Linked DNA regions of Homo sapiens: region 1 is linked to region 2. The links come from fine-mapping of genetic effects on gene expression. Tissue or cell type: whole blood. Region 2 holds a variant in brackets; the other region holds the start of a gene. All regions are shown on one strand. Distances are between the middles of the regions.

Region 1 (8,112 bases), 50 kb after region 2:
TGAGCCTTAGTTACCACATCTTCAAATGCCTATAAAAAATCACCGTAGTCATTTGAAGGATTAAATAATGTATGGAAAGCACAAAGCATGTGTTCCATCACTAGAAGATATTATTCTTAAATGTTTAGTAATGATTGTATCAGTGTTTCATTTTCCCCAAGATTTTTTTTTCTTCCTACAGTGTTATATCTCCTTATGGTCCTTTACTACTCCATCCCCTCCAAAAACACAAAACAAAAAACAAACAAATGATAGAGGAGAGAGAGACAGACATGCACATACACAGTCTGATGACTAGGGTCTAAAGTTTTCAGAAATTTTACCTCCCTGAAATTTCTTTAAAGTAGTATTATTTTATGGATTTCCTTCTAAGCTCATTATGTCAGCTTTATGAATTACTTTTATGATATTCCTATTCTCATCAATGAAAATGTCATCTGTATTTCAAAGGCCCATTTCAGCTCTCCTTCACAAAACCTTTTCTAATCTTCTTAATATCTTTTTTTCTAAATACTCATAGCACGTAATACCCCCAATGACATTCATATTAAGCATTATGTTGTCATTACTTGTGTACTTTTGCTGTTTTATTTCCCCAACTAGATTTTAAGTTTCTCAAATTGTTTCTAATATTGTACCTAAAAGGCAACAAATTGACGTTGAATTATATAAAGAACATAATAGAAAATGAATCAGAAATAGATATAGATAGATGTATTTTAAATTGGGGTTATATTTGTTAAACACTTTTTGCTTTAACAAGATTTGAATAAATGCTTCCAATCAAATAACAATTTTCTTTGGTGACATAAATTAAAAAAGCAAAAATGCCACTAGCCCCATGGAATGTGGAACATACATTAAGAAAAGAGGAATATGAGGAAAATGATATTAAAGAGTCTACCTGGCTGAAAGATCCTAGTTATTAACGGTACATCATTAAAAACTTAGAAGAAAATGAGTAATATTTAGAGGGAGTTGATGCCATATGGCATCATATGGCATGAGTTCATTAGTAAATACTACAAAGAAATTTAATTTATATTATTTAACATAGATGACATTACATCAAAAGAGGAAATGATAATTTAAATTGATAAATATTAATTGAAGTACTGGTCAAAACTAACACAACAAAAAAATCTCAAAACGTAATTAAGAAAATGTTTCAATAATATGCAGAGGATAAAGTATGTAAGTAAAGTATTGATAATCTTTCCTCTAGAATTTGAAATGTGAAGAACTTGAAACCTGAAAGCAAAGGAATCGGGTGAGAAAATAAAGTATATAGCAAAATATTAAAAGTATTGGAATTCTCAGCCTTAGAGTAACCAATTCTAGACGCTGTAATAAATGATTATTATACAGACACCTGGGAACTTCTAGGAAATGCATATGCTTAAACTCTACTCTAGAACCAATGAATCACACTCTGGGGTAGGGCCCAGCAATCTCTGACAAGCCTTCCAGGTCACAGATGCATACTAGAGAATCAACGATACAGAATAATGACATTCAATATGATTAGGGTACTTGTGGCAACACAGTTATCAGAACAGCTATCAGACATTTTAATTCTTCTCATTTATAGTACCCACTATTGAGTCCATCCTAACAAATCCAATCCTAACCCTAACAATACTGAAGTTATCCCTGTTCCCACTCCCTCCCCGTCCAACCTATGTAGAAACAGATAATATGTGGAGGAAAACTGGGACAGAGTATACAACTAAATACCTTAATGAACATGTGTGTGGCGGGCTGAGGGACACCAGAAGAGAAAGCAATTCAGAAATACTATTGAACACTGGTGAGGTTTTGGGCTTAGTTTTGCCACTAACAATCCCACCCCTAACTTTCCCCATGACCATCTCCTTATTTGAGGGGGATGAAGGGAGCTATGAAAATCTACTCTGATATGCAAAAAAACATTTCCGAGTCTGCAGTTTGTAACCTGGGGGCTCCCAGGGCTGGGAGGCCTTTTGGGAAGCAACTATGCAGCTTTTCTCTGGTGGTACCTGGAACACTCCCTCCTGATTCAGATGCTGACAAACCCTACACTGCATGGCAGCTAAGATACACTTACTCAGGGGTAATTCTGCTTGTTCCAATTGGTAATATGTTGCCCCTTTACTCACTCTGAAAGACTCTTAGAGCAAGCTGTTAGGGAAGTAAGAAATATCTACTGAAAGCTGCACGAACTGCGTAACTCTTAAGAAAAGCATGTCTAGATTAAACGGTAACAAGATAATCTATAAATAATCAATATCCAAGGTACCATTTGGGAAGAACATTATTTAATTCTTTTAAACTTTTGATACATACTTTATTTCTTGATATGCCATCCCTTTGGCTGTTTTCAAGTTTCTTTGCAAGTTCTTCACATTCATATTAAGTTCTAAAGGAAAGATTATCAATACTTAGATACTGTACTTGATACACCAAATCACATTCATAAAGAAATCAGTTATCTTCCTACTGCCCTAACCTACAACAAGTAGACAGGAGATGAAAAAAAAAATCCCCATCATAACTTAGGGTGGAAATGAAGGCATTCTCACAATTAGCAACATCTACCAGAGTATCTCCAAACATTAATCGTACTTTGATCCACTGGATTAAGACTGCAAACAATTTGCCAAGAATCAGGTGGTCATTAAGCAAGCTGTTCTCACTTTTCACATAAAAAGAAGAAATGGATTTAAATTAGGGAAAGGACATTAAGTTACACACTCTATTAACTTTAATGATATTAGAATTGACTAGCCAGGGAAAGTTATAGCATCTTTCTCCTGAGGAAAAAGGAATCAAATATTTGCCCAGCAACAACTGAGCCAGGATAATGTAGGAATTTTGCATAGGCCCTTTATAACATTATTTAATCCTTACACCACCACCAGCACCCTGACCTTCCTCAGTTTACAAATGAAGACACAGGATCAGACAGGTTAAGACATTTCTCCTAAGTTCACAAAACTACTAAGTAGCAGGACTAAGAGGCAAACCAAAATTGGTGGGACTACTAACTCCATGCTGCCTCTTAGTGATGTGGGTTTATAATAGGAAAGATGAGGTACACAATAGCTTCCTATCCCTTGATACTGTTTACTACTACTGAACCAACTATGGGAGCTGGAACTATTCTACATTAAGTTCACCTCCTAATGTTACACTGATCTCTCCAGCCTCCAAATTCTTCGCTTTATGCACTGCTTATTTTGGCACCCAATCATACTCCATCTTAAAATGTTATGCTAAGTATTCATACCCTATTTCTCCGAAGAAATCTGTAGGCTTCCAAAAGGTAGAACTGTCTTTTACACTTACATACCTACCCATCAATAGAGTTCAGCACCGACTAAGGATTTGATGTCCTTATTTCCACATTCGCAAAGCTCAGCAGTATGTTACAATGGATGGTGGTTTGTTCACATTAGAATGAAGTGTGGTTGTAAAGTAATACAGTAAAACTGTTCTACCAAGATTCTCCTTAGTATCTCCTTACTGATATTTACTTGTCAAATTTTTATCAATAATCTTATAATGAGACACAAAAACGCCTAAAATGAGAAAAGTGGCGTTAGTATCTGATAAAACGGGATTTGGTGCGCTACTATTTAGCTAACTAATACTAGTGTCCTACACAACATTACGAAATTTTATTTCCCAGTTTCTTCAGTGCAATGTTTTAAAGACCACAGCTTAGACAACTAGGCTGTATGGGCATAGAGTGCATCGCTTTCCTTCACCCCTTTAAAAGAAAAACCTACCTGATAAAATGGAACCATTTTTATATTTAAGTAAGCAAGTCAGAAATAGCATCCAAGACAAAAAAGAACAAATCACGTATCATTACTGTTCAGGTGACTGTCTACTTCCCTGCGGCCACAGTAACCTTTCTTCTGGAGTAAGTCTCAAGAAGGAAGCATCAACCCGTGAACCGACCAACTGACCCCGCAAAATGTCATTCTAAACGAATAGCTATTTTTACATCATACGTGGGGTGGAAGGGAGACAAAGCACCAGCGCTGGAGGCTTGGGCACTTGTGTTCACGACCACCACAGTGTCAAGACCCGACATCGGGAGACCGGGCGCCGGATTCTATCCCCAGACGGGGTCGGGGAAAGGCTCCGCCGAGGCCAGAGGTGGCCTCCAACTCGCACCAGCCCGCGCCGTCACCAGCCCGCGTCCACCGCCGCGCTCCCTCCCCCGGCTCCTCGCCTCACCTGCAAATCCCGCGCGCTCGGAGGCCGCGGCCCGGAAGACCTCCTCTCCTGCTCGCCGGGCTCAGGGCCTCCGCCCTCCGCCATCTTCCGCTGGCTAGCGGCGCCCGCTGCGGACGCACCTGCCGCAACTTCCGGGGCCGGTTGCCTGGCAACCGCAGGAGGGGCGAAGACGCGCAAGGTGCGTGCGCGTCCCCGCTACCCGAACCCGCGCCCCCGCTTCCGGTGCTGGCCCACCTTTTTGGTTTCTCCTTTTTTCTTAAAGGGAGTTTCTCCGCAGGGAAACCTCTGTTAAGTTTTGTGTTGCTCCTGCTACTCGCCTAAAGGCACTGTAGGCCGCCCTAGAGGGCAGCATAGACTTGCAGATTCATTTAGCTCAACAATGAAAACATCCTCTGGATTTTTCATCTGATGAAAAATTGCAACCTCTCCATCTAGTCTTGGTCAGATTCTCTGATCTTTCCTATCAAGGATTGGATGGTACATCGTCACCACAGCGTGAATTAGCACTGAGAGTGAAAAACACCGTAAAAAGTGCTTGGAATAATTTGCTAAAAGCAGAACTCTGCCGGGCCTGTGGCTCACGCCTGTAGTCCCAGCACTTTGGGAGGCCGAGGCGGACGAGGTGATCGAGACCATCCTGGCCAACATGGTGAAACCCCTTCTCTACTAAAAAAAAAAATATATATATATATATATATATATATATATATACACACACATATATATATACACATATATACACACACATATATATATACACATATATATACATATATATACACATATATATATATATATATACACAAAAATTAGCTGGGCGTGGCGGAGCGTGCCTGTAGTCCGAGCTACTGGGGAGACTGAGGCAGGAGAATCGCTTGAATCAGGGAGTCGGAGGTTGCAGTGAGCCGAGATCGCGCCACTGCACTCCAGCCTGGCGACACAGGGAGGATCCGTCTCAAAAAAGAAAAAAAGCAGATCTCGAGACTATCAAGCCCTCGTCATTCAACTGAAATTGATTTAGACTCTGGTCTTCTTATCCTAGGCACTTTTTGTTTTTGAGACGGAGCCTCGCTCTGTCGCCCAAGCTGGAGTGCAGTGGCGCGACCTCGGCTCACTGCAGCCTCCACCTCCCGGGTTCAAGCAATTCTCCTGCCTCAGCCTCCCGAGTAGCTTGGACTACAGGTGCGTGCCGCCATGCCCGGCTAACTTTTGTATTTTTAGTAAAGACGGGGTTTCACCATGTTGGCCAGGATGGTCTTGATCTCCTGACCTCATGATCTGCCCACCTCGGCCTCCCAAAGTGCTGGGATTACAGGCGTGAGCCACTGCGCCTGGCCTCCTAGGCACTTTTATGCCCAAGGGATGCAAAGGTAAAAAGAAATAGTCCCAGTCATTATGAAACTCAGTCTAGTAGGGAAAAGAGACATGTAAACGGGTAAGATGCAGCTTGCAGTAGAGCTTTGCTTGGGAGGGTTACAAAGGAAATGTGAGCCATGTGAGGGGAAATACTCCGTTGGTATCTGCTGTGTGCACCATGCTAGGTGCTGGAGTCGACAGCTTGCCGCCCGAGCTTTGGCATACTGATCGTTTTGATGTATAAAGGCATTTGAGGCTGGGCGTCGTGGCTGACGCCTGTAATCCCAACTCTTTGGGAGGCCGAGGCAGACGGATCACTTGAGGTCAGGAGTTTCAGACCAGCCTGGCCAACGTGGTGAAATCCTGTCTCTACTAAAAATACAAAAATTAGCTGGGCGTGGTGGCGCGTGCCTGTAGTCCCAGCTACTTGGGAGGCTGAGACAGGTGAATTGCTTGAACCCGGGAAGCAGAGGTTGCAGTGAGCAGAGATGCACCATTGCACTTCAGCCTGGGTGTCACAGAGAGACTCCGTCTTAAAAACAAAAAACAAAAAACAAAAAAAAGCATTTGATAAACAGCAGGTGCAAGAAGAGCACTCTGACCTTTTCTTCCTGAAAGCAGGAAAAGAAACTACCATGTGATAGATGCCCTCCCTATACCAAGAGGAAAGATACTCATCACCAGAGAAGGGGAGTTGAGGCCGAGAAACATCTGTACAGATATTGTTAAACTAACCAGTATCTTCCTAGATACTCTTCCACGATTGCCTCTCTTTGTTCAACCTAGTATATAAGCACTTAGGCCTAGCCACTTCTTCGGGTGTTTATTTTCCTGTGAGGACACCCACTTATACGTAAAGTTTTATTAAATAAAATTTGTATGCTTTTTCCCTGTTAATCTGTTTTGTGTCCGTTTAATTCTTGGACCCAGCTGGAGACTCTGAGAGAGTAAAGGAGAAAATTTTCTCCCCCAGCTGTGCATTCCCTGTGTAATTTCATTTATCCCTCTACCAGGTAGTTATGATTATCTTGTTATACCCGAGGAAACCAGATGATGAAGACTAACTTCACCCTGTAGTAAATGGCAGTGCCAAATACTAAACTGCACTTGTTTTCCTGATACTCTCTTAACATCAGATTCTGCCCTAGAAATCTCGGGCTCTTTAACAAGAAATGCCTCATAGAGCCAAAGACATTTTAGCTGAGTGTTGAAGGAAAGTACTTCCAGTAGAAGTATTAGACCAGAAAGAATCTTGGTAAAGGCAAAGATATTTACAAAGACACTGATATTTAAAATATTATATTCATGTCAGCAAATTGCTATATGGTTGCAACTTAGAAATGACAAAAGATGGTTATGGAATGGTGGGGAGGAGACAGATGTAGAATGGAGGCTTGAGACAGATTCTGAAGGATCTTGCCTTAGGTTGGGGATGGAATCCTCTGAGCCAGTGATTCTCTAACATTCTTGTACATTAGAATCACCTCTTCTCTCTCGTCTCCAGGTACTCAGATTTATTAATAATTGGTATAGAGTGGGAGTCAGGCATCATATTTCTTAAGATGTTCGCAAAGTGGATTTTGCTGCTGGCCATGACAGTATACCTGATGTTGGACTTGTCCTCCCACTCTTAACAACTAAAAACAACAGTTTTAAGGCATTGAGCAACAGGCAGTACAGGTCTGTGATATCTGAAAGAAGGAAAACGAACAAGGTGACTATATTTGCCCAGGCTCTTTATTTTTATTTATTTATTTTTTGAGATAGGGTTTCTCTCTGTTGTCCAGGCTGGAGTACAGTGGTGCAATCACGCCTCACTGCAGCCTCAATCTGTCTAGTTAGAGCAATCCTCCCACCTCAGCCTCCCGAGTAGCTGTTGCCTTGGCTTTCTGCATGGAACTCTCATACACTGCTAGTGGGTCCTAGAATGGTACAGCCACTTTGGAAAAGAGGTTGTCAGTTTCTTCTAATGTTAAATATTCCATTATCATAAGAACCAGCAATTCTACTCTTAAATATTGACCCAAGAGGGATATAAGTATACATTTATAAAGTATTTCAACTCAAATGTTCATAGAAGCTTTATCTGTAATAGCCTGTAAACTGGAAACAATCCAAATGTCCATCAGCCAATGAATGGATACAATTTTGATAAATCATACAATGGAATACTACTCAATAGTAAAAAGGAAGAAGTTATGGATTCACATGTCTTGAATGAATCTCAAAGATATTATCTTGGGTAAAAAAAGCCAGGTGCGAAAGAGTAAATATTGTCTGATTTAATTTATATGAAATTTTAGAACAGGCAACACCTTTAATGACTAAAAGCTGGTGGTAGCTTGGGGCTGTCTTTTGGAGTAAGGATTCAGTTCCCCAATTGTAGGACATGTAGGAACTTTTTGAGGTGACAGAAGTGTTTTATAACTTGATTGTGGTGGTAGTTACACAGGTATGTATTAATACGTTTGTTAAAAGCACACTGTATACACTTAAAATGCATGCATTTTATTATATGTAAATTATTCA
Region 2 (8,112 bases):
ATCAAGGGTAGGTACTGCCAGATGAGGTTACTGTCACGTGCATCCGTGTGAAGAGACCACCAAACAGGATCTGTGTGAGCAAAAAGGCTGTTTATTTCACCTGGGTGCAGGTGGGCTGAGTCCGAAAAGAGAGTTAGGGAAGGGAGATAGGTGTGGGGCCGTTTTATAGGATTTGGGTGGGTAGTGGAAAATTACAGTCAAAGGGGGCTTTTCTCTTGTGGGCAGGGGCAGGGGTCACAAGGTGCTCAGTGGGGGAGCTTCTGAGCCAGGAGAAGGAATTTCACAAGGTTAATCGCTCAGTTAAGGTGGGGCAGGAACAAATCACAATGGTGGAATGTTATCAGTTAAGGCAGGAACCAGCCATTTTCACTTGTTTTGTGATTCTTCACTTGCTTCAGGCCATCTGGATGTATACGTGCAGGTCACAGGGGATATGATGGCTTGGCTCGGGCTCAGAGGCCTGACAGTTAATAAGGCATAGAGTTTAAATGCCTTGACCAAACGTCACTAGCTGGTAAATGAAGTCAGGTGTCAAACCAGGCCTGTCTCCAAAGCCTATATGCCATCACCATTTACATTTTTGAAGACATTTTAACTTTAGTATGTATTTTAAAAGAAACATTTTCTGGATAGCCAAAATATTATCATAATTCACAAAAATTAATCATAATTTTTAAATATACCCTGTCCATATTTCACAAACCACCTTCCAAATATCATTTACATCTGGTCTATACAAACCAGGATCCTGTCCAAGCCACACTACTTACCTCTCCAATGTAGAAGAGTCTCTTTTTTTTTCTCAATGACACTGATCTGTTCTGTAAAGTGTTTCACCTTCTGAATTTGTCTAATTGTTTCGTTGTGGCAACTGTTTATTCTTCTATATGTTTCCAATAAACTGAAAGTTACATCTAAAGTCTTGATAGGTTTGGCCGGCAGTGGTGGCTCACTCCTGTAATCCCAGCACTTTGGGAGGCCCAGGCGGGCGGATCACGAGGTCAGGAGATCGAGACCATCCCGGCTAACACGGTGAAACCCCGTCTCTACTAAAAATACAAAAAATCAGCCGGGCGCAGTGGCGAGCGCCTGTAGTCCCAGCTATTCAGGAGGCTGAGGCAGGAGAATGGCGTGAACCCGGGAGGTGGAGCTTGCAGTGAGCCGAGATAGCGCCACTGCACTCTGGCCTGGGCGGAAGAGTGAGCCTCCGTCTCAAAAAATAAATAAATAAATAAATAAATAAAAAATAAAGTTCCCATGGGTTCAAATTAAGTGTTTTAGTTGAAAGTGCATCATAGTTAATGTGTATACACCATAGGCAATTCATTAGGAGATGGATAATACCTGGTTGTTCTAGCATTAGGGGTGCTAAGTTTGGTCAATGAATTGGGATGATGATGGCCTTATTCTCTATTGTACAATTTTAGTCTTATCCTGCCTCTGCCATTGTAAATTTATGATTTCCCCCTTGTGAAAAGAATGTGATCTTTTTTTTGATGTTCCTTAAGCAAATCACATACGAAATTCACTTCCCCACCAATTGATCACCTAACAATTTTAACATCAACTGATAATCCTTGCCTGAGTCAGTAATTTTCATCAGGGCTGCAAAATGGTGAATTTTATCTTTCTATCTATTATCATCTATATTTATTAGCTCGCATTCTTTTGTAAAGTACAGCTTTGACTCGTCAACTAGGGCTACTAGTTACTCAGAAATACCGGTCTTACTGGAAAGGCAGAATAAATGTGTAATACTTCCCTTTACTTACCAATTTTCAAAGTAAGATGTTGGTTTAATGGCCACCTCAAATGGTAACAAATAGGTTTTTATGACTTATTTGAGAGTTATGATGGACTTAACGAATTTTCCTAGACCCAGTGTGTTTCAGTTACCTACAATCTTGTTGTTCAAATGGTGGCAAATTAGTCCAGTGGGAACCCCATCTACGAGGTTTTTGTGCCCTTTTGAAATGACTCCATGTCTTTGAAAGCTTCTTTACTTTGGTCAGAAGATAAAGTGGGCTCACCTTGTGTTTCCCTGTCTTAAATCTGAAATCAGCCATTTCTTCAAGGAGTCCTGCTTACTTTTAGTGAGCAATGATACTAGAGATCAAAATTTGGGTTTGAAATGATATTTTTTAAAAAAAAACTAAACTATAGTCTTAAGGTAAATCTGTTTCTAACTTGACTTTGTTCTTATCATGAATTTCCCCCACATTATTAAATACTCTACCAGGCCTTTTTTTTTTTTTTTTTTTTTTTTTGAGAAGAAGTCTTGCTCTGTCGCCCAGACTGGAGTGCAGAGGGCAGTGGTGTGATCTCGGCTCACTGCAAGCTCTGCCTCCCGGGTTCACGCCATTCTCCTGCCTCAGCCTCCTGAGTAGCTGGGACTACAGGCGCCCGCCACCATGCCCGGCTAATTTTTTGTATTTTTAGTAGAGACGGAGTTTCACCGTGTTAGCCAGGATGGTCTTGATCTCCTGACCTTGCGCCTTGGCCTCCCGAAGTGCTGGGATTACAGGCATCGCCACCACGCCCCACCCTGTCTACTAGGCCTTTTTAAGTGACTGAATGGTGCTCTATGAAACTATTATAATTTTTGATGAATAGGCTTGTGCAGTTAAACTTTCTTCAAAAAGCTGTTAAGCATTAAGTCCAGGAAAGGTAGTGGTCCTATAAAATTTTCACTGAGTTTAACCTACTTGTTAATATTATACCCTACAAACCAGTCCATAGATCTTACTAGACTGAAAATGTTTTCAATAAGAATTCTCAAATTATCTTACCAGAGAACTAACTCAAATGGAAGGCAATAAACAACACAAGTTATAACTTCCCTAGATTTGCTCACTGTTATTCACTGATTTGTATCATTTTTCCATTTTTAACCATGTCAGGACATCTTTAAGCACTTTGTTGGTTAGTGTTTAACTTTGTGAAACAATATCAGAATTCAGAACTAAAGGAACAGTTTCTTTTTTTTCCAGCTTTACTGAAGTATGATTGACAACAATTGTGTATATTTAAAGTGTACAATGTGACATTTCGATACAAGTATTGTACCTGAGCGAGTTAGAGAAAACGCCACACTTTGAGATGAATTAAGAGTCCATTTATTTAGC[T/C]GGCGGCCAAGAGATGGCTAACGCTCAAAGTTCTCTGGGCCCTGAAGAAGGGGCTAGATTTTCTTTTATACTTTGGTTTAGAAAGGGGAGGGGGGATCTAGTTAAAACAATTTTACAGAAGTAAAGTAGGCAAAAAAGTTAAAAGGATAAATGGTTACAGGAAAGTAAACAGTTCCAGGTGCAGGGGCTTTAAGACTATTACAAGGTGCCTGTAATCCCAGCACTTTGGGAGGCCGAGGCAGGCGGATCACGAGGTCAGGAGATCCAGACCATCCTGGCTAACAAGGTGAAACCCCATCTCTACTAAAAATACAAAAATTAGCTGGGCATGGTGGCAGGTGCCTGTAGTCCCAGCCACTCGGGAGGTTGAGGCAGGAGAATGGCGTGAACTCGGGAGGCAGAGCTTGCAGTGAGCCGAGATTGTGCCACTGCACTCCAGCCTGGGTGACAGAGCAAGACTCCGTCTCAAAAAAAAAACAAAAACAAAAACAAAAACTATTACAAGGTGATAGATGTGGGGCTTTGGGCGTTATCAATCAGACGAATTCCTGGGAACTGCGGATATTGCTTGCCACAGTATCTTATCAATTAATTGCATTCTTGGATGTGCTGGGAGTCAGCTTGCACAAGTTAAGTCCTTGAGGAAGGGGCTGCAAGTGAAAGAGCCAAGATGGAGTCTGTCTGGCTCTCTTAGCTAAGGGAGAGTCAATTCAGGTGGAAACAAGGCTAGGTGATTAAAGGAAAGGGAGAGTCTAAGAACAGGGTTAGTAAAAACAAGGTTGGGCATTACAGTACACATTGTGAAATGATTATCATAATCAAGCTTCATCAACTCACATATTTTTTGTGTATGTGGTGAGAACAATAGCAATCTAGTGTCTTAGCAAATTTCAAGTATGCAATATATTATTATTAACTTTAGTCACCATGCTGTATATTAGGTCTTCAGGACTTACTCATTTTATAACTGAAAGTTCACATTCCTTGATCAATAAATCTTTTTCCCCACTCCCCAACCCTTTGTAATCACCGTTCTACTGTTAGTAGGAGTTTAAGCATTTTTTTTTTTAGATTCCACATATAAGTGCTCATGTGATATTTGTCTTTTTATCTTTCTGTGCCTGGCTTATGTCACTTGGCATATTGTCCTTCAGGTTTTTCCATGTTATCAGAAGTGGCAGAGAAAAACTAGAAAATTCCTTCTATTTTTTTTAAGAATAAGTAATATTCCATTGTATATATGCACCATGTTTTCTTTATATGTTCGTCTGTTGTAGAACACTTAGGCTGTTTCCACACCTTTGTGATTGTGAATGATGTTGCAGTGAACACGGGAGTGTAGACATCTCTCAAGACAGTGATTTTATTTCTTTTGGACATATACTCAGAAGTAGAACTGATATGCGGAAGTAGGATTTCTGGATCAAATGGTAGTTCTATTTTCAATCTTTTGAGGAACGTTCATATTGTTTTCCATAATGGCTGTACCTGAAGGACCATGTTCTAATCTCCTCATTCTGGAGATGAGAAAGTTGGGACTTGCAGAGTTGGTGGTAGAGGCATGCTTAAAAATTTGGGACATCTAATTCCTATGCTAATTCTCTCCATTTTCATTTTGCAGTTCTGCCACTTATATCTCTGTTAGCACACTTGATAATTGTAAAGTTGCAACAACATTTTGCAAGAGGGAAAGGTAAAAATCAAAGTATGCCAAGACCAGCTCGGTCGGGGAGACCCTAACCCAGCGGCGCTAGAGGAAGTAGAGACACACACACAGAAATACAGAGGTGTGGAGTGGGAAATCAGGGGTCTCACAGCATTCAGAGCTGAGAGCCTCGGACAGAGATTTACCCACGCATTTATTGACAGCAAGCCAGTGATAAGCATTGTTTCTATAGATTATAGATTAACTAGAAGTATTCCTTATGGGAAACAAAGGGATGGGCTGAAATAAAGGGATGGGTCTGGCTAGTTATCTGCAGCAGGAAACATGTCCTTAAGGCACAGATTGCTCATGCTATTGTTTGTGGCTTAGGAATGCCTTTAAGCGGTTTTCTGCCCTGGGTGGGCCAGGTGTTCCTTGCTCTCATTCCGGTAAACTCACAACCTTCCAGCATGGGTCTCATGGCCATCATGAACATGTCACAGTGCTGCAGAGGTTTTGTTTATGGTCAGTTTTGGGGCCAGTTTATGGCCAGATTTTGGGGGGCCTGTTCCCAACAAAAGTAGAAGTTGTGAGACCTTGTGACTGCAAAGGTAGAAAAGAGCTAGGAATTAAAATCTGATAAATCAGAATTTAGCCAAGGAAAACAGAAGGAAATATGGAATAGGTTTTTTTTTTTAAAAAAAAAAAAGGAAAAAGACTAAATTTTCTGGTAGTGCATTTAAATAAAGAATGCATTATTGAGAAGTCAGGGGAGCACTCAGTGGGGCATTTTAAATGCTGTCCAGGGAGCATGGTCAGTGAGCAATACACTCAAGTGATGGACATCTGGTAAATATCTGATGGGCAACATGACCCTAAAAAAAACCCAAGGTCGGCCGGGTGCGGTGGCTCACGCCTGTAATCCCAGCACTTTGGGAGGCTGAGGCGGGAGGATCACGAGGTCAGGAGTTCGAGACCAGCCTGACCAACATGGTGAAACCCCATCTCTACTAAAAATACAAAAATTAGCCAGGCATGGTGGCGCATGCCTGTAATCCCAGCTATTCAGGAGGTTGAGGCAGGAGAATCGCTTGAACCAGGGAGGCGAAGGTTGCAGTGAGCCAAGATGGCACGACTGCACTCCAGCCTGGGCGACAGAGCGAGACTCCGTCTCAAGAAAAGAAAAAGGGAAAAAAAAAAGAACACAAGGCCTACTACACTGACACCATCAATATTTTTATGTTTTGACATTAGCTATATTACATTTCTGAAAATGCCAATCATATTCAGCCAAGTATTCTTCATCTATACTGCAGGAGATCACGGAAACCATGGCTACATGATACTCATGTCTGGGTAATTTCTAATTCTTATTTGAACAGGTAACTTTGATCCTCTCCCTTCATTTTATTAACGCAGCTAAGGGAAAGATACTGGCATGGATTCTTTCCCAGGACCTATACACCCCCTGGTGGAGACAAGAACAAGTAACCAAATTCCCATACCCTGATGACCTGATGTTAACTTGTCAAAAGGTAACTACTGTATAAGATTTTGTTTTACTACAAGTAGCACCTTGATTTTGTAAAGATTAACAGGCTCTATGACCTTAAGTATTTATTGCCAGATAATGACATGTCGGGGGGGAAAAAAACATAGTTCGTCACTCATTGTTACCTGACGTGGCTCCTCGCCCATACATACCTATCAGTAGGTGGAAACCACACAGTTCCTTGTCTTACAGACTGGGTCGTTGTATCAGATCCAAGTCACTTTGTCAAAGAAGTGAAAATGTAATAAACAATAGTACTCTTGATATTTCTAATTGCTGCCAACCAGTGATATCTGATGTAGTCTTCTCTTTTCTGGCTTACAATTGAATAAGAATACCAGATTCTTGCACTAGATCAATGTAAAAAAAAAAAGAATTTGATATTCCTATCTCCAGTTAAAGAAAAACATAATACTCTTATAGAATTAGTGCCAGTGCCTTTCAAATATTCTGCTTTTTCTGCCACATCATTTTTGATGTAATAAAGTTTCTACGATAGGTTTGAAAAACAAAACAAAAACAGCAAACATTCAAGGAAAATATATCAAAACACTAAAACACATTAAAACACTCCATACAAGAAAGTTAAACAGAACCCAAACTACCAAATCTTCATACATTAACATTTCATCTGAGGATGCTTTTGGCAGTGAGGCCAAAAATTACATTTGCTGAATAGCCTTCAGAAAATTACTTAATATGCTGAATACTATTTGATATGCTGCATACTCACCATATTTGCTGAATATCCTTTAGAAAACTACTTAATCCTTTATAATAATCTACAAAATGAATATGTCAATATCTCTGTACCTACACTGCTAATTACTATTAAGAAATAAGGACAATGTTTTTTACCCAAAACTGCAGGACAATGGAAACTGAATCATACCAACCCATAAGGAGATACTGACTTCATCTCTACTCACAATGTGATTCTTCACGTCACTTAACTTTTACCCATGAAAATAATGGGGATAAGATTTATTCTGCTTATCTCCAAGGGTTCTCATGGAAGCTGTATTTTTGAAATAATGAATTTTGTATAGGAGCGAAGAGCTTCACAAACTCAAGTGCTGACATAGTAGAGATATTTCAGGATTTATGTTTATATAGGCTTTTACATTGTTGGTATTTATAGATACATCTCCATTTACAAATTAGATGACCCCAAGTGTTGAATGTAAACTGATTTTTGTAGTTAAGTCATTCAGATTGCACTTAAAGGGACTCAATAGAGAATCATCAATAAACAACTATTTTATTTTGCAGTTGAATTGGCACCAATACTAATGTTATCTTATATGTAAAGATATTCCTGATGAAAGCTGTCTGTGTTATAGGGCTTTGCTCTTCTAATCCTCTAGTAAGCCTTGTCAGAGCTGATGGTGCCCCACCTCTGCCTTGCCACTGGCAAGATTCCATTCACACTTGGTACTTCTCCTGACATGTTACTGTCAGGAGAACTCAATGTTCCAAGGAAAGGTCCCAGTGAGTCAGAAAGTTTTGAAAGTAATATTTAGAAGTATATGGAGAACAATGAGAAAAAAGAACCCAAGAAGAATGGAAGTGAAAGTTTATGGAGTGTTTGAAACTTTATGGAAAGTTTATGAAAGTTTATTGAAAGTTGGTTGGAGATTTAGAAGTATATGAATAAAACAAAAAACCGCCACCACTACCCTACCCTATTTACATATAGTATGAAGATTTAAAAAATATTTTGGGATATTTACAACTAGTAAAAGTAAATACCAACTTGCTTACAGTAGGAAGAATAATGAGGAAATAAA

What was found. PIP is the estimated chance that this variant, and not a neighbour inherited with it, causes the effect.
Region 1: it holds the start of UBXN2B, and the variant in region 2 is fine-mapped to the expression of UBXN2B in whole blood (TOPMed, PIP 0.99).

The regions. Positions count from the first base shown.
Region 1 is chr8:58,407,585-58,415,696 of GRCh38, reverse strand. UBXN2B (UBX domain protein 2B) reads right to left here and starts at 4,336. Exons shown (of 8, transcript NM_001077619.2): 1 at 4,228-4,336. The coding sequence starts at 4,311. RefSeq lists enhancers at 3,891-3,940, 4,221-4,270, 4,281-4,340.
Region 2 is chr8:58,457,942-58,466,053 of GRCh38, reverse strand. No RefSeq gene overlaps it. Among named protein-coding and RNA genes, the nearest start is that of CYP7A1, 38 kb to the left of the region's middle. The variant T/C (reference allele first, on the strand shown) is at 3,126.